Regions from separate parts of the Homo sapiens genome. Here all the other regions are linked to region 2. The links come from fine-mapping of genetic effects on gene expression. A gene starts in region 2. Each other region holds a variant in brackets. All regions are shown on one strand. Distances are from middle to middle.

Region 1 (4,093 bases), 26 kb before region 2:
AAGACTATAATCTTCAGGAATCTGTTTCTTTCTGTAAGAAACCAGGAATTCCATTTAAGTACTATCTCTTCCCCCAAAAAGGAAAGATTATGCTATTTCTTATTAAACATGACTATAGAGTAGAAATAACATACAACAGAAAGAATAACTCTCCTCAACCATATCCACCCCCAGAAATACTAAGGTTAACAGTTAGGCACATATTCTTCCAGATTTAAGGAAAATAAAAACGCATACAGATATTATGTACTATTTAGAATCAGCATACAAACATACAGCTGTAGGTCAGGTGGTATCAAGGGACAAAGAAAAGAGGAAAATAGGAAAGAAAATGCCATCTGCTATCATTCCTTTTTCTGGCACTAGTAGGGGGGCAGTCAGGGTCTCTCATGCTCTGTCACCCAGGCTGGAGTGCAGTGGCACAAGCATAGCTCACTGCGGCCTCAAACTCCTGGGCTCAAGCAGTCCTCCCACCTTAGCCTCCCAAGTAGCTGAGATCACAGGCATACACCACAGCATGCTGCTAATTTTTAAATTTTTTATAGAGACAGAGTCCTGCTATGTTGCTCAGGCTGAACTTGAACTCCTCAGATCAAGCTATCCTCCCACCTCAGCCTCCCAAGTACTTGGGACTACAGACCATGCAAAAAGCCTGGCTAATTTTTAAAATTTTTCTGTGGAAATGGGGCTCTCGTTATGTTGCCTAGACTGGTCTCGAACTCCTGGACTTAAGAGATCCTCCTGCCTCAGCCTCCCGAAGTGCTGGGATTACAGGTGTGAGCCACTGTGCCAAGCCCAGGTCCTTACTTTTATCACAAGTACTGTATCACTTATTTACAAATTAATCTTCTCCTATGAGAATGTAAGTTTCTTACTTGTATCCCTAATAGCAGAGGCCCGCACACAAAGAAATGAAGATTCTATAAATGTCTGAAGAACTAATATTTCTAATTAATGATTTTCACACATTATAAACTATGACATCCTTTATTCAAGTCACGTATTACTTAGAAGCCGAATATTATTAAGAGTAAAATATGGCACACTACTTGGATCGAGCAGCCCAGAGACTCCATTCAGCCCTTCACTCACTCCTCAAACAAATTTGTGTTGTAAATGTACTTACTTCACAGGGGCTCGTGCGTAAACCTGAAGCCAGTCAGGAATTTCTGCAGTATGATATGGATTTGCAGGTACCAGAAGGGACTGATTTCTTTCAGTTTGCTGTGGCTGGTATGTGACAGGAGGTGGTTGATCATACCGAGGTACACTAAGAAGAAAGGAGTGACATTCTTTAGGATAAAGGTCTTAAAATCTAAACAAGAAATTATAAAGAACAAATAATACTTAAGCATTTTTCAGTGTGCCTTCTGTCCAAACTGACTTACACCACCTGAAAGGTAATGTATTTTTAAGATATTTCTTCTGGCTGGTATTTAGTCTTTTCAAAAACAGGTTCAAAGGAGGATATGAAAAAGCTGGAACTAAGTTTTAACCTTTATACAAAGGCTTAAAACTAGAATAGTAAATTCCCACAAGAAATAGTCATCAGCTGTAAATTCATATCAGAAAGGTTGACAGTTTCTAAGAAAGGATGTTTCCTTCCTCCCGTAGGCTGAAAATGGGGGTTAGGATATGTAGTGACGCAGCAGTGAGTATTGTGTTTGAAATATCTCTATCCAATGCAGATAACTTTTCAACTTTTACCAACTCAAGAGAACATATGGGAGTCAGAGTTGATCAGAACCTATTTTAAGTCACAGAGATTAAAAAAAAAAAAGACCATACTTTAGTTCTAATAGCCTGTGTATGCTGTGGGGAGTGGAGATATTATATGGGAAAGTGTAAGGAAAGCACTGAACCACCTGAAGGTTAATAGCTGAACTCGAAGCGGCCAAAAGGGTCTATTTGAGACCAAAAGGGGTCTGCACCTTCAAACATAAAGATTTATGTGTATATGTGGCCAACAAGCATATGAGAAAATGCTCAACATCACTGCTTATTAGAGAAATGCAAATCAAAAGCACAATGAAATAAATACCATTCCACATCAATCAGAATGGCTATTATTAAAAAGTCAAAAAATAACAGATGCTGGTATGGTTGCAAAGAAAAATGAATGCTTATACACTGCTGGTGGGAACATAAATTAGTTCAGTCACAGTGGAAAGCAGTTGGGAGACTTCTCAAAGAACTTAGAACTATCATTCAATCCAGCAGTCCCATTAATGGGACTATTTCTACAAAGGAATAGAAATCATTCTACCATAAAGAAACACGTGTGCACATGTTAATTGCAGCACTATTCACAATAGCAAAGATACGGTATCAACCTAAATGCCCATCAATGGTGGGCTGGATAAAGAAAATGTGGTATGCAGACACCATGGAATACTACCCAGCCATAAAAAAGAACAAGAGCATGTAGTCTGCAGCAACACTGATGGAACTGGAGGCCATTATCCTAAGTGAATTAA[T/G]GCAGGAAGAGAAAACTAATACCACATGTTGATAGGTAGGAGCTAAACACTGAGTACACATGGACACAAAGAAGGGAACAATAAACATTGAGGCCTACTTGCGGGCAGAGGATGGGAGAAGCATGAGGATTGAAAACTACCTATCAGGGACCGGGCGTGATGGCTCACACCTGAGGTCGGGAGTTCGAGACCAGCCTGGCCAACATGCAGAAACCCCGTCTCTACTAAAAATACAAAACTTAACCAGGCTTCATGATGCATGCCTGTAATCCCAGCTACTTGGAAGGCTGAGGCAGGAGAATTGCTTGAACCTGGGAGGCGAAGGTTGAGGTGAGCTGAGATCGCGCCACTGCACTCCAGCCTTGGCAACAAAAGTGAAACTCCGTCTCAGAAAAAAAAAAAAAAAGAAAAGAAAAACTACCTATCAGACACTATGCTTATTACCCGGGTGATAATCTGTACCAAATCCCCAAGCCATGCAATTTACCCATGTAACAAACCTGCACATGTACCCCTGAACCTAAAATAAAAGTTAGGGAGAAAAAAAAGAAAATGTGGTGTATATATAACAATGGGGAGAAAAAAATGCATGTGTATATTAGAAAAGGTCACTGTTTACTAAACTGGGATTAAAATAAGGTTAGATTATGCTGTGGTTAACAATTTTAAAAGATCAATATGCAAATGGAACTGAATTCTATCTTCAACTCTTCTTTCCTAAATAGGTTCAAAGGAAAATGTTCTTTGATAGTACAACTGGGGGTGAAGAAGAATTGGGACTTTGAAGTCAGGTACGCCTGGATTTGAACCACAGCTTTAACACTTACAAACTATGTAAATGTAAGCAAAACTCCTCCTATCCCTAAGCCTCAGCCTCCATACTTGTAAAAGTGGAATAATAAATTCATACCACAGGTGGTTGTTCTCAGGATTAAATGACCTAATGTAAGTCAAGAATTTTGTATAAGGATTGGCCTAAGATAGACAACCAGACAACTAGTAATACTACATATGTGAGCTTAAGGGCAGCGTTTATTCTCTCTTGTTCAACTTCTACCAAGTTGCTGAGAGAAGTAAATTAACTAATTATGAAATTGCTTTTAAAAAACTATTAAAATTCTGTAATAACATAAGGTTAATGATGATTGTATTAGTCTATTTTCACAATGTTATAAAGAATTACCTGAAACTGGGTAATTTATAAAGAAAAGAGGTTTAATTGACCCACAGTTCCATAATTGGGAGGCCTCAGGAAACTTAAATCATGGCAGAAGATGAAGGGGAAGCAAGGCACATCTTACGTGGTGGCAGGAGAGAGAAAGAAGGGGGAACTGCCACACACTTTTAAACTATCAGATCTCATGAGAACTCACTACCAGAACAACATGGGGGAAATGGCCCCCATGATTCAATCACTTCCCACCAGGTCCCTCCCTTGATACATGGGGATTACGATTTGAGATGAGATTTGGGTGAGGACACAGAGCCAAACCATGTCAACGAACAGAAAAGTAAACTCTCAAATCTGGTTATCTGGACTGCAACAATCATTGCCACCTGATGACCACACCACAGGTTTGATTCTTTCAAAGGACAACAACCTCAGTAGTTGAATA
Region 2 (4,093 bases):
CTACACATTAATGAAATGCTCATGAATTAATGTATAAAAATAGGAAATAATATAACAAATTGATAGTTTCTAGTTAAGTAGTTTATTTTGTTGTTCTCACTTCATTTTAGAAACTGCCAAAAATCCTTCTTGAAGCAAACACAATTTCAAAAATAGAACTTAATGCTACTCCCAAATATGTAAAAGTGGATTCCTTTAAAAATTAAAAAATTAGTAGCTCTTTCTTCTCTTGGAATTACCTAGCACTAGCACAGTAATCAAAAGCTAGAAAGCCAAAAATTTATGTATGAAAATTGAAAATAAAAAGCTCTCATTTCAAAGAAGCACACAAATGTAGAAGTGGCTCAAAAAACCAAGCCTGAAACTATGTAATTATAATTCAAAATAGTAGATAATAGAACAACAGCTTTTAGGATACAGTACTTTTAAACACGAAACTTGAAAACAGCTTAAGACATTCCCAGTTAGAAAGCAAATACCTTTAAAACAAGACAAAAACCTGAATATGCAGACCCTCTTATTATTCATCAAGTAAACAATATTGGAGACACTCATATTAATAAGCTTCAGAAACTAACACTGGACAGAAACAAATATCTGAATAAATAAGGCTCAACACTTGATGTAACGACAACAAAACAAAGTAGATCAAAAGTTATTTGCTTAACTGTGACAAACATTAACAAAACTGCACGTTCTACACATGTACCCCAGAACTTAAAGTATAATAAAAAGTGTGACAAACATAATTCACGATTTCAAGTAATGTCTGATAAACTTTATTTGCAGCAAACAGCAAGCTATCACTTAAAAACAGCCAGAAACCTAACTGCATGTGTGACTGAAAATCAAGTTGTTAAAAAAAAAAAAAAACAACTTAAAAATCAAGTTTCGAGTTACTGATGTACTCAACTGACATATATTTTGTTGAAAGTATTGCAAGTACCACCATAAATCTGGAAGGCTGACAATGTGGTTATGATGGAAAAACATGCTCTCCCATCTGTGTGATCTTGGGCAAATACTAGAAACCTAACTTTCCCAATTACAATATGAGGTAATACTTAAGTCACAAGGTTACTACCAGCTTCCAAGAAGGAAACTTAAGCAAAGGGCCCAGGGCGCAGTAAGAGCACCAAAATACCAGCTCCATGCCTCACAAATGTCCTGAACACACAAGAATTAAAAATTCAAGAGATTCAACTCAAAAATCAAATACTTACATTAAGAAGAAAAGCAGCGGGGGACCGGAGGTGGGGATTGGGAGTGGGATCTACCCTATTAAAAAAAAAAACTTTTCGAGGGGGGGGTTCTCTAATACGATAGAAATTATTTTGAGTTGCCTTCTTGGAATCTCACGAATATAGCCAAATACAAAGGCTTTTGGCTCTCTGCTCTGCTGTGTAAGAGTGATGAGGCTTTGGGTGGCGGCTACAAGAACGACGGTATGCTTTTCACCTTCTCAAGTCTGCATCCGGCAGCAGGACTAAGGAATTCTGCCCCAGAGTTCGCACAACTTGCAGCACAGTCGAGAGACACCCGCAATGTTTGCAAACATGACGCACATCTCGACGCATCTAAAAGAGTAAAAAGTGTCCCTGTCTAATTACTTTTACTCCTATAGCATTAGGTGATAAGCAATTTAAATGTTTCCTACTCTCTCTTCCAGTAATCAAAACCAACAACTCTGCCTGGTGGGGCGAGGAAGTCTGTTATTTTTAGGGGGTGCTCTTGGGGGGGTTAGGCGCGGGGGGGACTAACCCAAGTTTCTTACTCTTATGGGCTTTCAATCAACGAATACCACTTCAGACACAAGAAAATCTCAAAACCAGTATTTCACGCGACCAAGGACGAAGGAGAAGCCCTGGAGACCCGCCGGCGCCCCCGCCAGGGTCCCCGGAGCACCTGGCCGCCTGGGCCAGGTGTGGGCACGCCCCGCCTGACACTCACTCCGAAGCAGAGGCGACGTCTCCTTCTTCACGTACTTCCCCTGCACCTCGGCCGGCTTGGACACTTCGTTTTTGGTTTTCTTTCGGGACAGCATCCTTCTCGACGAGGCCCGAGGCCGCGCTGAACTGCCTCCCTAGGGCTCCGCGCCGGGCGCCGGCCGTCTCCGCCGCCACCTCCGCCGGCGCCGCCGCCTCCTTCCCTCCCGAGCCGCCGCCTCCGCCGCCGCCTGTCCGGAGCCCGGGGTCGCCCGCAGGGACTGCCGCATGTTCAGGGCGCTAAGCGCGCCGGCCGCCGCTCAGTCGCTGGTCAGTTCCTTCCCGGAAGTCGGCCCGCTCTGCGACGCTGCTCGGGGACGCCGTGAGGAAAGCCCAGCGACGCCGGGCCAGGGCCAGGGCCATGGTCCGCCGCGGGCCGCCGAATAACCGCTACCACTACCGCCGCCGCCGCCTACATCCCGTAAACTTTCCCCGCGGCCGCTGGGAATTCTGGGAAGCTCGACGCAGCGCGGGCCGCCGCTGCCCCTCCCCCACCGCGGCTCCAGGCGCGGCTCCGGCGGCGGGACTCGGGTGCCGGCGCTCTAGGCTACCGGGCCGTCCCCGCCGAGCTGCGGCTGTCCTCACTCATCCTCAGCGAGAAGCAGGTCCTGCCGACTGAGAAGATGAAGGACGAAACCTGCCCCGCTGAGTGCGGGAGTTCGTCGCATGCGCATGTCGTGGAACCTACTCTCCACGAGTTTTTATTGTTGTTGCTTTTGTACCCCCTCGGGATCCCTAGCGGAGGCAGTGACTCTCTTTCCCCCCAAGACGTTGTTCCCTGTTTGAAGGTGTTCTTCCTAATGTTTCCTAGGCTGCTGAATTCAGCTCTCTAAAAAATGCGGAATGCTAACCATGACTCCCAGGCAAGTGCTACACCAAAGCATCTATTCTGCTGGAAACGTTCATGCTGATTAACTAGAAATAAGTTGATCCTCTACTGAGTATCAGGGAGTGCGTTTTTCTATAACAGGAAAAAACGGAAGAATGCAAGATGGAATTTCCAGTACCTCTTTTTAAGATACAATTGGTGTTAGCATATTACAATTATTTTATTGCATCATCACTATCATTAGTATGATTAATAGCCACATATTTCCTCCTGACGTTATGTGTTATGATCTTAGAATTTTGAAGACTTTGACCACTGCGAGTCGGGACCGGGAATTTTCTATCTAAAATAATAGACTCTACTTCCTTCTATATAACTTAGCAAGACTGCCAAATGTACAGGATAACATTTGGAAAATAAGATTGGATTCATCCCCTAGTGACCAAATTAATGCTTTAATAATGAGGAATGCTTTCCCTGAGATCTAAAACATCTCACAAGAGATCTAAGACATATATCACAATTAACAAAAGACATGGAATTTTTTACCACGTAAGATTAAGAAGATGGTCAAATGTTTTACCATGAGCAAACAAAGGAGACATTTGATCTAGTGTCTGTCTCCATATGTTCCCTTGGTGCAGATCTCCCACAATTCATTCATTAACCAGGAAATACTCATTACCCACTGCGCTAGTCGTTTGTGATAGAGCAATAAGCAAAACAGACAAAAATCCCTACTGTCATGGGAAAGAGAAAAAAATGACAAAAAATAAGCAAAACATACTATGTTAGATAGTGATAAGTGATGAAGTGAAAATAAGAGAGGACTCACAATTTTTGAGAGGGTAATAGAGGGACCAGAGAAGGCTCATGAGGAGGTGACATTGGAGTTAAGTGACAGAGTGAGGAAATTGGCCATGCAGCTAACTGGAGGAACAATATTCCAGGCAGAAAGAACAGCAAGTGCAAAGTCGCTGCAAGTGGCCATGTTCCTGGCAGATTGGAGGAACAGTAAGAGGGTTTATGTACTGGAAAAGACGGGGAGACGAATGGGGAATGCAGTTAGAGAGTAACAATAGCCACGGCACCTAGGGCTTTGTAGGCCATTGTAAGGAATGTTACTTTGAGCAGAGGAGTGACATGATCTGAGTTAATGTTTTCATAGGACTGCTTTGGATGCTGTGTGGAGAGTAGACAATGGAGCTAAGGGCAAAAGGGAGATCAGTCAGAAGTTATTGCTGGCTTGGACCCAGGCAATAATAGGTGGAGAGGTAAG
Region 3 (4,093 bases), 47 kb after region 2:
AAATATGAGATATTGAAAGCACTAAGAGTAGTGATAGAGGTAGTAGTGAGAAAAAGACAGTGACCCAAGTTCTAAAATCAGTGAGGGAGGTGGCCAGGAGGTAGGTAGATGACTGCAACAAGGAATGTCTAATCTGTTTCTAATTATAGCCTACTGCTTGGGATTGATCTGTTGGAAAATCAGTAGTAATGAGGCTTGAATTTGTATATTATATACAAATATATAATATGGAAATGTATATATTATACTGTAATATACAAATGTATATATTCTCTCTACATATATATTATATATCTCCCTGTCAGTGGTATCATAGCCATGAGAGGAATGGCCTGAGCAAAGCACACAGCAATCTTGGCTCATTTACAGATTGCAATGGACAATTTACCAGCCAGTGAAGTGATCACCTTGTGGGCTAAGGTGGAGAAAAGATGTCTAACTAGGGGAAGGGAGTGGAATAAAAACCCTGTAGTTAATTTTGTACTTTGTACTTCTAGAAAGTATAAAGAAGCTTAAATAATCTTTTCAAAGGAAATCTTCAAAGGTGTACTCATTTGTTGTCTACTACTTGTTTGGGGGTTCCTCTTATAGGTTCCACTGTGAATCGCTATTCCTAAGTAGATGGGAACATCTGTAGAAAACTCTTTGTGCCTATGTCCAGATCATACTGTTCTGTGGGCAAAAACCTCGTGGCTTCTTTTCTAAAGCCCCCATTTTCAGACACCTATTGGAAATCTTAGGAGCAGTAATGTCAGTTTCTTCTCCCCAATACCACATGTTTACTTCTCCAGTTATCTCTGGTCAATGAAGACAAGCGCAGTCTTATTTCAGGGTCAAAGTACAGCCAATTTAGTACTGCTTGAAAAGTGGAATCCAAGGGCTGTCACCCTGGGCATCAATATAAAAATAAAATTGCTGCATTTAATTAGCTTCCACCACTGCAGGCTACTGCTGCTGCTTTCTCTCCCCCGCAAGATTCTACCACTTTTTCTTTCCCCAGGTGGATGTATCACGTTTAAACGTGAAAATTGCCCTGTTCTCTTCAGGAAACCAACCGTAGAACTAAACTCTACCTTTCTTGGACTTCATCTTTTCTAGAATTGCATACATCTTGTATCTTCTCTAGGGTCAGGCTGGAAAATCAAGACCACTTTATCCTTCCCCGATATCCAACTAATTCTAGGTCTCAATTAGGATAAGGTTTGGCTGCATATAATAAGAAAATCCAAAATAATAGTTACTTAAACAACTAAAAGTTTATTCCTTTTTCGTAAAGTCCAGAAGGAATTGAGGCCTCACATGATAGCTAAATGAATTTGTCAGAGATCTAGGCTCTTTCCAGCTCTCTACACTGCCATCTATAGGAGGTGGCCCTCATCTTTATGGTCCAACATAGTTGCTAGATCTTCAATCATCATCTTCACTCTAGGCAGTAGGAACAAAAACAGGTGTATTCCCCCTCTTTATTTTTGGAGATGGGGTCTTGCTCTGTTGCCCAGGCAGGAGTGCAGTGTAGTAATCATAGCTACTGCAGCCTCAAACTCCTGAGCTTAAGGGATCCTCCCACCTTAGCTTCCTGAGTAGCTAGGACTGCAGGCACTGTGTCTGGCTAAATTTAAAAAAAAAAAAAATTTTTAGAGACAAGATCTCACTATACTGCCCAGGCTGGTCTCACACTCCTGGGCTTAAGTGACATTCCTGCCTCAGTCTCCCTAGTAGCTGGGACTATAGGATTATGCCATCATGCCAGCTTATCCCCTCTTTTAAGAAGTCTTCCCAGACCTCCTGCATATCAGTGGCCAAAACCTAGTCACATGGTCACATCTAGCTGCAAAAGAGGCTAGAGAATATAGTCTTATAGCTGGGTAATAACATGCATGGTCAAATTTCAGCCTTCTTTTTTTTAAGGAGGAAGGGGAGGATGGTTAACTGGAAGCAACTATTTGTCCTGCCTTTTCCTCCTACTCAATACATAGACAACATAGCAAGAGATACTGTTGCCCTTTGAGAAGCCAAACAGAGTTTAGTATGGCTAAATTCACTAATTATTACTTTATGAATTAATCAGAAGGTATTCTTAAGAATTTAAAATCTTAAGTATTCTCACCACAAAAGTGATAAGAATGTGAGGTTATATATGTTAATTAGCTCAATTTAGCTATTTCACAATGTATATGTATTTCTTTTCTTTTT[C/CT]TTTTTTTTTTTTTTTGAGATGGACTCTTGCTCTGTTGCCCAGGCTGGAGTGCAGTGGTGCGATCTCGGCTCATTGCAAGCTCCGCCTCCCGGGTTCACGCCATTCTTGTGCCTCAGCCTCCTGAGTAGCTGGGACTACAGGTGCCTGCCACCATGCCCCGCTCATTTTTTTTTTTTGTATTTTTAGTAGAGATGGGGTTTCGCCATGTTAGCCAGAATGGTCTTGATCTCGTGACCTCGTGATCCGCCCGCCTCAGCCTCCCAAAGTGCTGGGATTACAGGTGTGAGCCACCGTGCCCAGCCATGTATATGTATTTCAAAACATTGCATAAGATATATATGTACAATTTTTATTTGTCGATTTAAAAAAGAATGGAGACTTGAGGACATGGGGTGTTCTTAAACAGTAGTGTGACATTCAGTCTTATTTTAGAAGAATCCTATTTGGAGGCTGTGTGGGGAGAGCAGGTTGGAGTGGGGCAACTTTAAGAGGTTCATGGTAACCTTGGCAAGTACAGATTTGATGAAATGATGGGGGCGGGGTCAGGGAAAGGCAATTCCAAATCTTGGACTTTCAGATCATTGATTTTTTTCTAATGTCTTGTGATCTTTTTCTTTTACCCACTTCACCATTATGTGAACTACCTCAGAATTGCTTATTTTAAATATCCTGCTTTTTGACCATCATTTAAGAAAAAATATTTCCAACAAATCTACTTTAGCATCTCCACTTCAAAAAAGCCTTTACTCCCAAACACTGACCCTACCAGTTTTCATACACATCAACCATCTGCCCACATCCACCTCTGGTTCTTGCTTATACCCACTGTGACTTGCATGGACACTGTTAAATTTACATGTAGTATCTGGAGAATACATAGGAATCAGGACAAAGGGGTGGGGAGAGGGCAAGGACAAAAGAAGGAATGATATGAGAAATAGTGCTAAGATGAGTGACCACACTTGTCACTAGACAGCACTGAATATGGTACTTTTTTTTTTTTTTTTTTTTTGAGAAGGAGTCTCATTCTGTCACCCAAGCTGGAGTGCAATGGTGCGATCTTGGCTCACTGCCACCTCCGCCTCCCGGGTTCAAGCGATTCTCCTGACTCAGCCTCCTGAGTAGCTGGGATTACAGGCGCGCGCCACCATGCCCGGCTGATTTTTGTATTTTTAGTAGAGACGGGGTTTCACCGTGTTAGTCAGGATGGTCTCAAATCTCCTAACCTTGTGATCCACCTGCCTCTGCCTCCCAAAGTGCTGAGATTACAGGCGTGAGCCACTGTGCCTGGCCAGTGCTGAACTTTTCATAATAAACTATAGGTGTATGGTTAGGCTAGCATAAATGGTTTCTAGTGAGTTTTTACTCAGAATACCATCTATTCTTCAGAGTAGCTAGAAGGGCAAGGAAGATTAAGGTGCTTGACACCACACTTAGTACATTTTTTTATCCATAACACTTCAAACATTTTAACTGGAAATCATTTCAAACTTACAAATAGGGTTACAATGATAATACAAATAATCCTTGCTTCATTGCCTTATTTCTCTCACTCTCTCACATTCTCCCTCACACGTGTATGCACATGCCTGGGTAATTTTGTTTCTGGATCATTTAAGAATAAGTTGCATATATCAGTCGGGCATGGTGGCTCATGCCTATAATCCCAGCACTTTGGGAGGCTGAGGCAGGTGGATCACGAGGTCAGGAGATCGACACCATCCTGGCTAACACAGTGAAACCCCGTCTCTACTAAAAATACAAAAAAATAGCCGGGCGTGGTGGCGGGTGCCTGTAGTCCCAGCTACTCGGGAGGCTGAGGCAGGAGAATGGCATGAACCTGGGAGGCGCAGGTTGCAGTGAGCCAAGATTGCACCACTGCACTCCAGCCTGGGTGAC
Region 4 (4,093 bases), 240 kb before region 2:
GTAATCAAGACGAATTAAAAATAGGCCGGGTGTGGGGCTCACATCTGTAATCCCGGCACTTTGGGAGGCCAAGGCAGGTGGATCACGTGAGGTCAGAAGTTCGAGACCAGCCTGGCCAACACGGTGAAATCCCATCTCTACTAAAAATACAAAAATTAGCTGGGTGTGTTGGTGCATGCCTGTAATCCCAGCTACTCAGGAGGCCGAGGCAGGAGAATCGCTTGAACCCAGGAGGTGGAGGTTGCAGTGAGCTGAGATTGTGCCGCTGCACTCCAGCCTGGGCGACAGTGTGAGACTCCATCTCAAAAAAAAAAAAAAAAAAAGAGTTAAAAATAGATATTTCGGAAATGGAATCAATATTTGATACAGTAAGAAACAAGGACCTTCTGTAGATTTCTAACCATAGGAGTGACATAATGAAAATAGCATTTAAGAATAATTAACCATATGATAATAAGTAGGACTGTAGGTTTCATCAAGTGCAGGGACTTGGTGACATTTAGTGACACGTATCAGTAACTAGATAAACTTATATATTCAAAGACAGCTGATTTATGTCATTTCCTCCTGGAAGCATTCTAATTCTGCATTCATATAAGAGGTAGGAATATTCATTTATATATAAGTAAGAGTGTGGATAAAACTAAAGGTAAATGCAAACAGAAGAAGTTTTTGAGCTTTAAGTAAGTTCACAAACTTGTTAGGCCATAGTTAGAAGAATCACACAAGTATTCACGTAAATGTGAAATGTCTCTGTTAGTATTATCTTAGCTAGTAGGACTCATTCCTCAAATTGGAGGCCCAAATCCCATCTCCTGCATGAGACGTAATTATCTCAGCTAGAAGTGATTTAAAGAGACCCTTCAAATCCAGACTCTTCCACTTCACTAGTTATGTAACTCTGGGCAAGTTACTTAACCACTCTGTAGCTGTAAAAATGGCAATATGAATAGTATCTACTTCTACTGGATTATTTTGAGCCTGAAATAAGCAAATATTTGTAAAGTGCCTGGAACACAGTAGGTATTATTTAAAGTTTGATATTATTTACAATAATAGTGTCTTGAACATAGTTGGTACTCAATAGTTACTAAATGAGTCAATTTTCTTAGATTCCCTTATTCTTATGCTCCATTATGTATTAATTTAGATTTTAAAATATATTTAAAAAGAAGCCAGATATTTATAGATTATGGAAAACACTTAATAAATTTAGAAAAGTTTTACAAGCTTAGCAACCATATTTACAAATTACAAATTAGATAAATGAAATTGCATGAACTTATATTTTGCAATTCCTGGTGGCCACTGAGAATTTTGAACTATGATACAGAAGTGAACATAGTTGAAGGGAAAATACTGGCTTTTTTGTTCTACCAGTTCATAGTATTAAAAGCACTAAACACAGTAATGTAGGTTCAGAGAGGAAATGCATAAAACGAGTGCTTCGACATTTAAAATTGTTAGTGGGAGTCAGTGGAGGTAATCTGAGAAGGCTTACCTCATCTGACTTGAAGCTTTTACCCTGCATCCCATGTTTCCAGAAAGCCAACACACTGTCTTGAAGGCATACTAAAAATGATAAGGGAGAAGTGAAACTAATATAAAGCACAGAGCATTTCACTATAAATTTTCTCTACTTTTAATAAATAATATAAGCCTATTCAAGTGTCTAGTGCAAAATTCCACTGTCTAGACCACGATTTCTCAACATTTTTGTGGCTAAGACATGCCTAAGTTCAAGTAATTTACTGAGGTAGGGTTATGCAAGTCTTCAAAGATACATATAAAAGCCATTCATTTAAACATGAACTAACTTCTGATAAGGTGGATGTTGGCATATTCATTTCTTTCATACAAAAGATACAGTGTATCTTTTGTCTTAAATGAATAAAATCATAAAAACATATATAACTGGGTTTTTGCATTAAAAGCATTGTTGTTTAAATACTGTTACATATTCAGAAGTAGCTTTAAACAAGCATTTTTTATGTTCATATTTTCCCTGTAACAAAAGAAATTTTAAAAAATAAACCTGGCCGGGCGCAGTGGCTCATCCCTGTAACCTCAGCACTTTGGGAGGCCGAGGTGGGTGGATCACCTGAGGTCAGGAGATGGAGACCAGCCTGACCAGTATGGTGAAACCCTGTCTCTACAAAAATACAAAAATTAGCCAGGTGTGGTGGCCTGTGCCTGTAGCCCCAGCTACTCAGGACGCTGAAACGGGAGAATTGCTTGAACCCCA[C/G]AGGTGGAGGCTGCAGTGAGCCGAGATCACGTCACTTCACTCCAGCTTGGGCGACAGAGCGAGACTCCGTCTCAAACAAAATAAATAAATAAAAAATAAAATAAAATAAACCTGCCCCACAATCCAACATTTAACCACACATTGAATATTTAGGATCTGTGAGTCAATTCTTACATAAAATTCTTAGTATTTAACCATTACAAGTAAGTATTAGAGTTAGAAAAGCATAATTAAAAGTGATGGAGGAAAGTAACTGAAAATTAACTGTTTTATTAGACTATTAACTTTTTGTAAAAAGTTAATGTAAGAATGTTCTGGGAACATAATTAAGCTCAATAAAAATAAAAGTATTTGACAATGACAAATCACATGTGTTTCACTAACTGTGACAAATAAAAAACCTAGTTACTGATTTTATTTTTAAGAGGTGTTGTAAAGGCATTTTTTTTTCCCCAGGAGGATTCCTGTAATTATTCCAAGGTTTACTGGCAAGAAAAGATGGTAGCCTAGGAGGAACAAACTTTTGTGTAACAATTAAAATTACGAAGATAATTTGGCACATCTGAAAAAGTTGAGGTATCAGTGTGTTTCAATGAAAGTGAAGAGGAATTAAGGATTCCTATGTCAGAATCTCTCTCAAAAATGTTAAATCCAAATTGGCATGTAATATAAGGAGTAAAAGAAGAAACTAGTTTCCAAAATTTCTTTTGTCCTGACATTTACAGAAAGTTTAGGTTTTCTGCTTTAATAAATTAAATTTCCCAATCATAAGCAAACTATTTTCATGTAAAATGTCACACAGAGGCACAAACATTTTGTGGATAAAACTCCAATTGAGAAATACATATTAAAATGTTTCTTAAAAATAAAAAACTAAGTAATGAAAATCGTGTTTTTAAAAATATGTAATTATAAAGTACATGTTATTTTTTATGGCCCAAATAAAAATTACCAACTTCATTTTAGTGCCTTTGATTTATGGTAGAATCATATCATGAAATGTTTAAAAATGTTTCCATTCATCATTTTTTTCACAAGTTCTGTCACTCCTGGGGAAGATACTGACATATGATCAATGAGCATGCAAACAATAATAAACTGTAATAATTTTCATCATAAAACCAATGAGTATTAGAGAGTAAAACATTCGTTGACAAGGAAGCAAATTAAATGGCATAAAAGTTTACAAGTCCTGTGAGAACTAGCTATTTATATAAAAATAGTTCCAAAAGCAGTAATATCAACACACACCACCCAGAATCTTACATGGCAAAGAATTATGGCATATCTAACACTGTTATCGCATCACACAAATACCTTCCTGACTGGGAAAGAATTGGGGGAAGTATAATTCACTTAATGCAGCAAAGGGAATAATGAACAGAAATGTTAAAAGTGATTACAAGTTTTAAATATTCAGGAAACAATAAAAGATTTATGATGGTCTGAACCTGCACTGTGCAATATGAGAGCAAGAAGCCACATGTTGTTATTTACATTAAAATTTGAATTAAAATCTAAAAAATGAAAATGTAGCACTAATCATGTTTCAGGTGCTTAACAGCCATATATGTTTAATCACTACTGTATTTAAGAGCACAGATAGAGAACATTTCTATCTTTTTTTTTTTTCTTGCTCTTGTTGCCCAGGCTGGAATGCAATGGCATGATCTCAGCTCACTGCAACCTCCGCCTCGCGGGTTCAAGCGATTCTCCTGCCTCAGCCTCCCAAGTAGTTGGGATTACAGGCACCCGCCAGCATGCCCAGCTAATTTTAGTATTTTTAGTAGAGACGGGGTTTCTCTCCATGTTGGCCAGGCTGGTCTTGAACTCCTGACCTTGTGATCT
Region 5 (4,078 bases), 33 kb before region 2:
AACATGCTAATTCCTTTAGGTAACTTCTAGTTCTTAATGACTAAAATCTCTAGTGGAGTTTCACTGAACAGACTTCTTAGAGGAAGAAGGAAAGTGTGTTAATGAAAAAAGTAATACTTATCTAGGAGGTCCAAAACAGAGAAACTTCTAAAGACTGTCACAGAAATGGCTACACCATAATTAAGTAGCGATATAAAGTAAGAAGTGACAGGAAAGAACAATTAAGATAGAGGAGTGTGGGAGTTCATAAGATATATATACTGACATCTTAGAAAAGTCTGATCACAAGTTCAGCAAATTATCTTTTCCCAGTGATAAAATTCCACTAGCCACACTTTCATTTTTCAATACCCCTTTTCATTACCCCTTTCAATTATATTGATTCCTTTGTCTATGGCCTTTTGAACAGAAAAATGAAATACAGCACTATGTCTAAAACATGGACTCAAAAACCACGCGCTTAGTTTCCACAAAAATATATTTAATAAGCTTGTTATATAAAATCAAACACTTAACATTGTCAACATTTCTTCAGTTATTCAAACTCACTGATATCTAACTGGGAGTAGTTTGTATTCTGGAAGACTTCCTAAGCTAAAAGTATATTTACATATTTACAACACATGTAAATATAACTGAAGAACTACTTCAAATAATGTTGAAATTCACAGAATTCTAGAGATTTATAGTTATAGTTTAGAAGTATCACCAATTTGTTTGCAATCAAATGTACAGCACTAATTATGAAAAATGTTTTAACTATTAAACCAAAAGGGGAGAAAAACTGGGAGGGAAATATATGGTGTTAAAGTCCTGTGATAAATACTTAGAAAATTAAAAAGTAATAATATACATTCGATTTAATGACCAAAAATTTTTTTTGAATCCCTGGTTGTCATTTTTGGTAGCTTAACCCAGTCTGTCAGAAGGCAGTATGCTATGCTGTCAGGAACTCTCCACTGCCTCGTCAGAGCCATGCTAAATGCAGTAACAGCACTGGCTGAAAATAAGGAAGATGATGTTAGCAACTTTGAGTTTCACGCACCTTCCCAATACAGGCTAAGTATTCCTGCTTATATGTATTCCTGAAAGATTAAAAGGCCCGTCACCCATTCATACCAAAAAATACTTTCTCAACATGCTTTAAAAGGATTCCTTATTTTGTTTTTATTTTTTTATTTTTTATTTTTTGAGACAAGGTCTGGCTCTCTCTCTCTCAGGCTGCAGTGCAAGTGGTGCGATCTTGACCCTGCAACCTCTGCCTCTTGGGCTCAAGCCATCCTCTGACCTCAGCCTCCCAAGTAGCTGGGACTAGAGGCACACACCATCATACCCGGCTAATTTTTTTGTATTTTTTGTAGAGATGGGGCTTCACCATGTTGCCCAGGCTGGTCTTAAACTCGTGGACTCAAGCGGTCCACCCACCTCGGCCTCCCAAAATGCTGGGATTACAGGAGTGAGCCACCACGCCCAGCTGGGTTCCTTACTTTGGAGAGGGGAGACAAACATACATCATATATAAATATTTATCACAATAAGGTTCCAAATCCTATTTTATATTTCAACTACATCATGGTAATATTTAAACCATCCCTTTCCAGACAATATTTCACACTACAGC[G/A]GTAAACTTTTTTTTTAAAAAAATACCGCAGATTCTTTTTTTTTTTTAAAGAAGGTACTACTGCTGTAAGAAGTTAACAAGTAATAATTTCCTATTTAACATCTGTTCATAATGACATTTCCGCTGCGTTTTTTTCCATCAAGAATACCAAAACAGTTTCCTAATATACAGTATTTGAAAGTGTTTGCCATATTGGCTCTTAAAATGATAGACTAATTTTTCTCATTCAATAAAAGAAAATTTCTAATAACAAAATACATGTAAAGTTAGAATTTTATAATTTCCACAAAGGAAGCAGCATTTATTAACCAGAGTACTTGTTTGCAATTTTTTATCTGTGAAAATATTTTAAAGCTCTTACAAAACTTAAATTTTTAAAAAATCAGCTCAAAAATTTTTTCCATGTTGTTGGGCATACCACTGCTGTCTCTGCTTTCGGTTTTCCAACTCTGTAAGAAGGGCTTGTCTGTATGCTTCATACATTTTAACAATCTGCTCCAATTCTTTCATGAAGAGCAACTTTAGCATTCCCTGGTATGTATCCAGGTCAGCCAGCTGGAAGAGTTCCCACTTCAGAATGTGGTCATATCTGTTTTAAAACACAATCATATATATGTTCACAACACATACATAAACATGTATTTCTAGCAAGAAACTAGTCTGTTTTTTAAAATGTCAACTTTATTTATAACTAAACAAACCATAAGTTTTAATTAAAAATAACTGGGCACAGTGGTGGCGCCTATTATAGTCCCAGCTACTTGGGAGGCTGAGGTGGGAGGCTGAGGTGGGAGGACTGCTTGTGCCCAAGAGTTTGAGGCCAGCCTGGGCAACATAGCAAGACCCTGTTTCTAAAAATAAATAAATCAGTTTTTTAAAAATCTGAGTTATTAACTGCTATTTACATATAATTCTTTGTTGGTTTGTTTTTTTGAGACAGAGTCTTGCTATGTCACCAGGCTGGAGTGCAGTGGCGTGATCTCAGCTCACTGCAACCTCCGCCTCCCGGGTTCAAGCAATTCTCCTGCCTCAGCCTCCCAAGTAGCTGGGATTACAGGCATGCGCCACCATGCCCAGCTACTTCTGTATTTTTAGTAGAGACAGAGTTTCACCATGTTGGCCAGGAGGTTCTCAATCTCCTGACCTCGTTATTCGCCCACCTCAGCCTCCCAAAGTGCTGGGATTAACTTTGGGAGCCACCGCGCCCGGCCTACATATAATTCTTCTAAGCAAAGGAGAAAACTGCTAATATTACTTCATTTCAATTTAAGTTAAAGAATACCTATTTCTTTAAATTACCCATTATTCTAATATTAACACCAGACAACCTTGAACACAGATTTCAAACTACAGTGGTTCTATAATTTCTGAAGAACATATTTTGTGCTACTTATAAGTTCATCAAAAGTTAACTGTCAGGAACTTAAGAATACTTTAGACCATATTGTGCTTGCAAATGATAATGCACAAAAATGGATGGTCATTTGCATCATTCATGTTGATGCATCTTTTTGAGGAATGCTATTCACAACAGCAAACAAGGAACCAAACAGAAGGAGAAATGAAGAGGAACCCTCAATTCGTGGCTCTAAGTATTCTTGAGGCTGAGTACACAGCATCTAAAAAAACAAACAGGAAAACTAAAGAAGGAAAGAATAAACTTTTTAAAATGAGAGAATGAGTAGACTATAGAAGGCTTCAGTGTGGTGAAGGATTCACAAAAGATTCTGTTTACATATATCATGGAAGACCATTAGTAGTCTTTCAGTGGTAAGTAGATCCCTGCTTAGCAGTAGTACCTTTAGTAGTCGGCTACATAGTTCCATTTCAGTATGTGATGAAGACAGCACTGTAATTAATATTCTCATTTTAAAGATGAAAAACACTAAAACCTAAAGAGGCTCTTTACCTCTTGCAAAAGTGCTTAGTGACTAAAAGTTCAAAAAGGAAGAGAACTATGGACCAAGATGCTTCAAAATAGTGGTTTTCAATGTTAATATCCACTAAGACTAGACAAAGAACTTGAATTAGGGAAACGCATGTTATACCCGAAATTATACCTCTCAAATCATACTGCAGAGCAGACATAATAGGAAGCTTTGATTGCAAACTCTAGCATTATTTTTAATGATCGTTTATAGTATTTCCTACCCAGTGGTTCTTTGATATTATACCATTTTCTTTCAAAAGGACTGTCTAATATTTTAAAATGAGATTTTAAAAAAGGGAGATAGAAAACATACCGAGCAGTTAGTGTGAGCCACTATACTTGGCATTTTGACATGTTTCTATTCAACTTGAGTATGTGTAACAGAAATGTCAGTAATACAACATGCAAAAACTGGAAGGTAAATATATTTAATTGGACTGCCAATTTCACTCAGTTACTTGAGAGCTGCAAATTTATTAATAGATTTAGATTTCTTTGGTAGGAAGCTCTGTTCTTTTTAATGGGAA
Region 6 (4,093 bases), 96 kb after region 2:
TGGCATCTGAGGAGGGACATCCAGTTTAACTAAGGAATGATTTTCAGCCTGAATTACCAGAGATGTGAACTAATAGGAAATAACAGAGGCCAAGAGAAGTCTTTTCTCTTTTCAAGCGTTAGGGCAAACAAGAAGAAATGAAGGTGAACAGATTCTTTCATGTACAGGCAGTGGAAAAAACCTTAATAGAATCCATCTCTTAGAATAGTAGGTGGTGGGGCGGCGGGGGTGGAAATTGTTGCTTATAGGTAGCTACCTCCTAATGCAAATGCTGCAAATTGAGGTAATAGCATGAGGTAGTTTGGTCAAACCAACCAGACTCCTACCCATCCAACAAATACTGAATGACGATGTGGCAGGAAAATGAACGGCCAGCATACTTGCTGCGATGCCCTGAGGAGTTAGCTTCATGGGTCACACTATCAACAACCCATCACTCAGCATTACAGAAGACTGCCTATTTCCTATGAATTTCCTAGAGTGTGGGTAGATCCCCATTTTATCTTATCAGCTATTATTGGCTAAAATTATCATATTTTAGCTATTATCAGCATAATTTTAGCATATTATCAGCTAAAATTTTAAAAAACAGGGCATAGGTTAGGAACCAGGATACAGGCAGTTGTGGGTAGAAATTCTTAACTCATGCATGAGCTCATCTCTGCAACTGCCCACGACGATGACTGAGAATGACACTGAAAATGTGAAGCATAAGTTGGGGGCTGAGCTTGTACACAGAAGAAAAGATTATGACTAATCTCTTAAGGCAGTGGGACCCAAAATAGCTTTGCATGTGGGGATACACAGGCAGATGGAAGAAAGGAACTTTTCTTGGGTATATGTCTAGCAGCTGCAACTGGCAGTCTTGCTTTGGGTCTTCTCTTCATATTTGATGGCATATTCCCAAATGAGAAGTAACACCCAGGGTGTGAGCCACACCACGATGGTACAGCTTCTTGTCCTCATGAGGAACAACCCCAACACTTGGCCATCTATGGAAAAGTCCATAACAGCTGCCGAGATATATCATATTATGAGATCCTCAGACTGGAATGAGCTAAGAATCAGAGGGGAGGTCTTAAGGCCTCTTTGTCTCCTCCTTCCCCAATCTGTTAATTATTCTGCAGTAAGAGGAGGAATAAACAACCTGTGTAAGAACGACACTCCTATCCCCAATAGCACTGGGGAAAGTTATTTATAACAGAATAACTGATTATGAGCTGTCTCTGAAATTTAAACTCAACACCCCCGAGAAAAGAGGTAGGCTATCAGGAGAGAGGAAAGGAGCTCATAGTTAATGCAGGAGGCTCCCAAACTCTGCCTTCCAAACTTGCCACTCAAAATCTTCCTCAAAGGCCAGGAGGCCAGCCCTTATTTATCTTCTTTGTTCTGCTGAGGCAATACAGACATTCAGCACAGCCCGTATAAGAAAACCAGCTATGGATTCTGTAGTATCTGGCTGGCCTGCTCTCCAAAACCATCTTCATATGAGTTACACACTCTCTTCGAAGAGGACAGCAATAGCTCAGTGTCTGAATTCTAACACTCCCAAGGCCTGGATTCCCA[G/C]ATTTGCAGCCAGTTTTTTGTTTGTTTTGTTAACAAAGCAAATACCCTTGTGGTTTGATTCTTCCATTCCTTTGTTGACGCATATCAAAATCAGATGGAAATGTTCTCATAAAAACTTCAAGGACAAATGAAAAACGAGACCACAAGTGAAACAGCTCAAGAAAAGAGTATGGCCAAATTCTTTTTTTTTTTTTTCTTTTTTCAAGTTGCCAAAGCTTTGCAATTTTATATTGAACCACGTTTCTAAAAACAAGAGTAAAGGCTTTATCTACAGCCTGTCCGAATGTGTTTACCGTGTTCGGGCTCAATGCCACCGCTGTTAGCCTCAACTTCTTCTGACGGTGAGTTCTTCAACGGAAGCCTGAGCACTCTGCCTTGTGCACGATATTCTTCCAGCTCAGACTGGAGTTCATCTACTTGGTCTTGTAGTACCTGGGATTTAAAAACCAACACTGGTCTTAGATGTGACACCAAAAGCATAAGCAACAACAACAACAAAAAAGATAAATTGGATATCATCAAAACAAAATCTTTTGTGCTTCAAAGGACACTATCAAGAAAGTAGAAATGTTTTGCAAATTAAGTATCTGATAAGGGACTTGTAACTAGAATATATAAAGACTATTATAGCTCAATAATAAGACAATTTTAAAAATGGGCAAATGATCTGAATTGATATTTCTCTAATGATGATATACAGATGACTAATACATACATGTAAAAGATATTCAATATCATTACCTATCAGGGAAATACAAATCAAAGCCACAATAAGATACCATTTCACACTTACTAGGGTGGCTAGAATCAAAAAGACATACAATAACGACTGTTGGTGAAGAAGTGGAGCAATTGGAACTATCATACTAGTGGGAATATAAAACAGTGCAACCACTTTGCAAGAAGTTTAGCAGTTCCTAAAACGGTTAAACATAGGGTTACCATACAACCTAGCAATTCTACTCCTAGATATATGCCCATACAAAAACGTGCGCACAAATTTTCATAGCTGCGTTACTCATAATAGCCAAAATCCCCCAAATGTCCCTTAACCGGTGAATTAATAAACAAAATGTGGTATATCTACGCAATGGAATATTATTCAAGAAATGAAGAACTGATACACGCTACAACATGGATGAACTTTAAAAACATTATGTTAAATGAAGGAAGCCGGTCTCAAGGGCTAATATTGTAAGATTCCATTTATATGAAATGTATAGAATATGCAAATCTGTAGAGACACAAAGTACACTAATAATTGCCTAGAGCTAGGGGGCTTGGGAGAGATTATGGCTAAGTGGAGAAGGGGTTTCTTCCTGGGGTGATGAAAATGTTCTAAAATTGAATGCGGTGATGTTTGCACAATTCTGTCAATACAATAAAAGACTGAATTTATACCTTCAATGGGTAAAACATATAGTGTATAAAGCTGTTAAGAAAACAAGTGGATGAGGCTGGGTGGGCAGATCACCTGAGGTCAGGAGTTCAAGACCAGCCTGGCCAACATGGTGAAACCCTGTCTCTACTTAAAAAAAAAAAAAAAAAAAAAAAAAAAAATTAGGCGTTTGGCAGACACCTGCAATCCCAGCTACTCGGGAGGCTGAGGCAGGAGAACTGCTTGAACCCAGGAGGTGGAGGTTGCAGTGAGCTGCGATCACACCACCGTACTCCAGCCTGGGTGACAGAGCTAGATTCCGTCTTAAAAAAAGTAAGAAAGAAAACAAGTGGATGAACTGGGGGAATTTCTGAAGGTAGAGCTGACAGCTTTTACTGATGAATTCATTAAATGTAAAGACATTTAGAAAATACCTCTATTTAATTAGAACCAAGAGCTAAAATTTAATTATAAAAGCAGTAGAAATGTTTTCTTAACCATGTATGTATATTTCCTGAAAAGGAGGGCTGCAAGTAACTTCATAATATGATTGTTTTACTCATCTCTGCACAATTAAACTTTTTATCTAAGTAGCTGGAACTCAGTTATATTTGTCTCATTAAAATAAACACGTGTTTCTGGTTTAAGAAAAAAATTCAAATTCCTAACTTTAGGGGAATTTTTTTAAAATCAAAGATTCTTGTTACTTGTAAAAATGTTTCCATCTCTCCTGGCCGAAATTGGGAATGATTTACTAGCTAAGACTTGAGTGGTTTTCTGTTTCATTTGCATTTTATAAATAAATGGAGTAAAAAATGTATTCAGAAAAAAAAAAACCCACAGGACAAAACCAAATCACGTCAGATTAGATCTGCAATGATCAATCAGGAAAGGCTAATTTTTGAATAATAATGTTAATAGCTAACATTTATGTTTTTTTTTTTTAATTTTATTATACTTTAAGCTTTAGGGTACATGTGCACATTGTGCAGGTTAGTTACATATGTATACATGCGCCATGCTGGTGCGCTGCACCCACTAACTCGTCATCTAGCATCAGGTATATCTCCCGGTGCTATCCCTCTCCCCTCCCCCCACCCCACAACAGTCCCCAGAGTGTAATATTCCCCTTCCTGTGTCCATGTGAAT

Which allele goes with the higher level. Alleles are on the strand shown, and positions count from the first base shown. SD is a standard deviation of normalised expression in the study named. Not every link is listed here.
With allele C in place of G in region 6, the expression in fibroblasts of the gene that starts at base 2,383 in region 2 is lower (small effect, 0.21 SD a copy in GTEx).

What was found. PIP is the estimated chance that this variant, and not a neighbour inherited with it, causes the effect.
Region 1: its variant is fine-mapped to the expression of SAV1 in whole blood (TOPMed, PIP 0.98).
Region 3: its variant is fine-mapped to the expression of SAV1 in whole blood (INTERVAL, PIP above 0.99).
Region 4: its variant is fine-mapped to the expression of SAV1 in whole blood (TOPMed, PIP 0.97).
Region 5: its variant is fine-mapped to the expression of SAV1 in whole blood (INTERVAL, PIP 0.99).
Region 6: its variant is fine-mapped to the expression of SAV1 in fibroblasts (GTEx, PIP above 0.99).

Annotation. Positions count from the first base shown.
Region 1 is chr14:50,639,624-50,643,716 of GRCh38, forward strand. SAV1 (salvador family WW domain containing protein 1) reads right to left here. Exons shown (of 5, transcript NM_021818.4): 4 at 1,127-1,270. Among named protein-coding and RNA genes, the nearest start is that of SAV1, 27 kb to the right of the region's middle. The variant T/G (reference allele first, on the strand shown) is at 2,478.
Region 2 is chr14:50,665,924-50,670,016 of GRCh38, forward strand. SAV1 (salvador family WW domain containing protein 1) reads right to left here and starts at 2,383. Exons shown (of 5, transcript NM_021818.4): 1 at 1,951-2,383. The coding sequence starts at 2,044. RefSeq lists an enhancer at 1,381-1,450 and silencers at 1,811-1,940, 2,051-2,620.
Region 3 is chr14:50,713,301-50,717,393 of GRCh38, forward strand. No RefSeq gene overlaps it. Among named protein-coding and RNA genes, the nearest start is that of SAV1, 47 kb to the left of the region's middle. The variant C/CT (reference allele first, on the strand shown) is at 2,194.
Region 4 is chr14:50,424,406-50,428,498 of GRCh38, forward strand. It overlaps MAP4K5 (mitogen-activated protein kinase kinase kinase kinase 5), which reads right to left. Exons shown (of 33, transcript NM_006575.6): 31 at 1,502-1,572. Among named protein-coding and RNA genes, the nearest start is that of CDKL1, 30 kb to the left of the region's middle. The variant C/G (reference allele first, on the strand shown) is at 2,246.
Region 5 is chr14:50,633,175-50,637,252 of GRCh38, forward strand. SAV1 (salvador family WW domain containing protein 1) reads right to left here. Exons shown (of 5, transcript NM_021818.4): 5 at 406-2,210. The coding sequence ends at 2,009. Among named protein-coding and RNA genes, the nearest start is that of SAV1, 33 kb to the right of the region's middle. The variant G/A (reference allele first, on the strand shown) is at 1,622.
Region 6 is chr14:50,761,967-50,766,059 of GRCh38, forward strand. It overlaps NIN (ninein), which reads right to left. Exons shown (of 31, transcript NM_020921.4): 15 at 1,860-1,998. Among named protein-coding and RNA genes, the nearest start is that of NIN, 67 kb to the right of the region's middle. The variant G/C (reference allele first, on the strand shown) is at 1,567.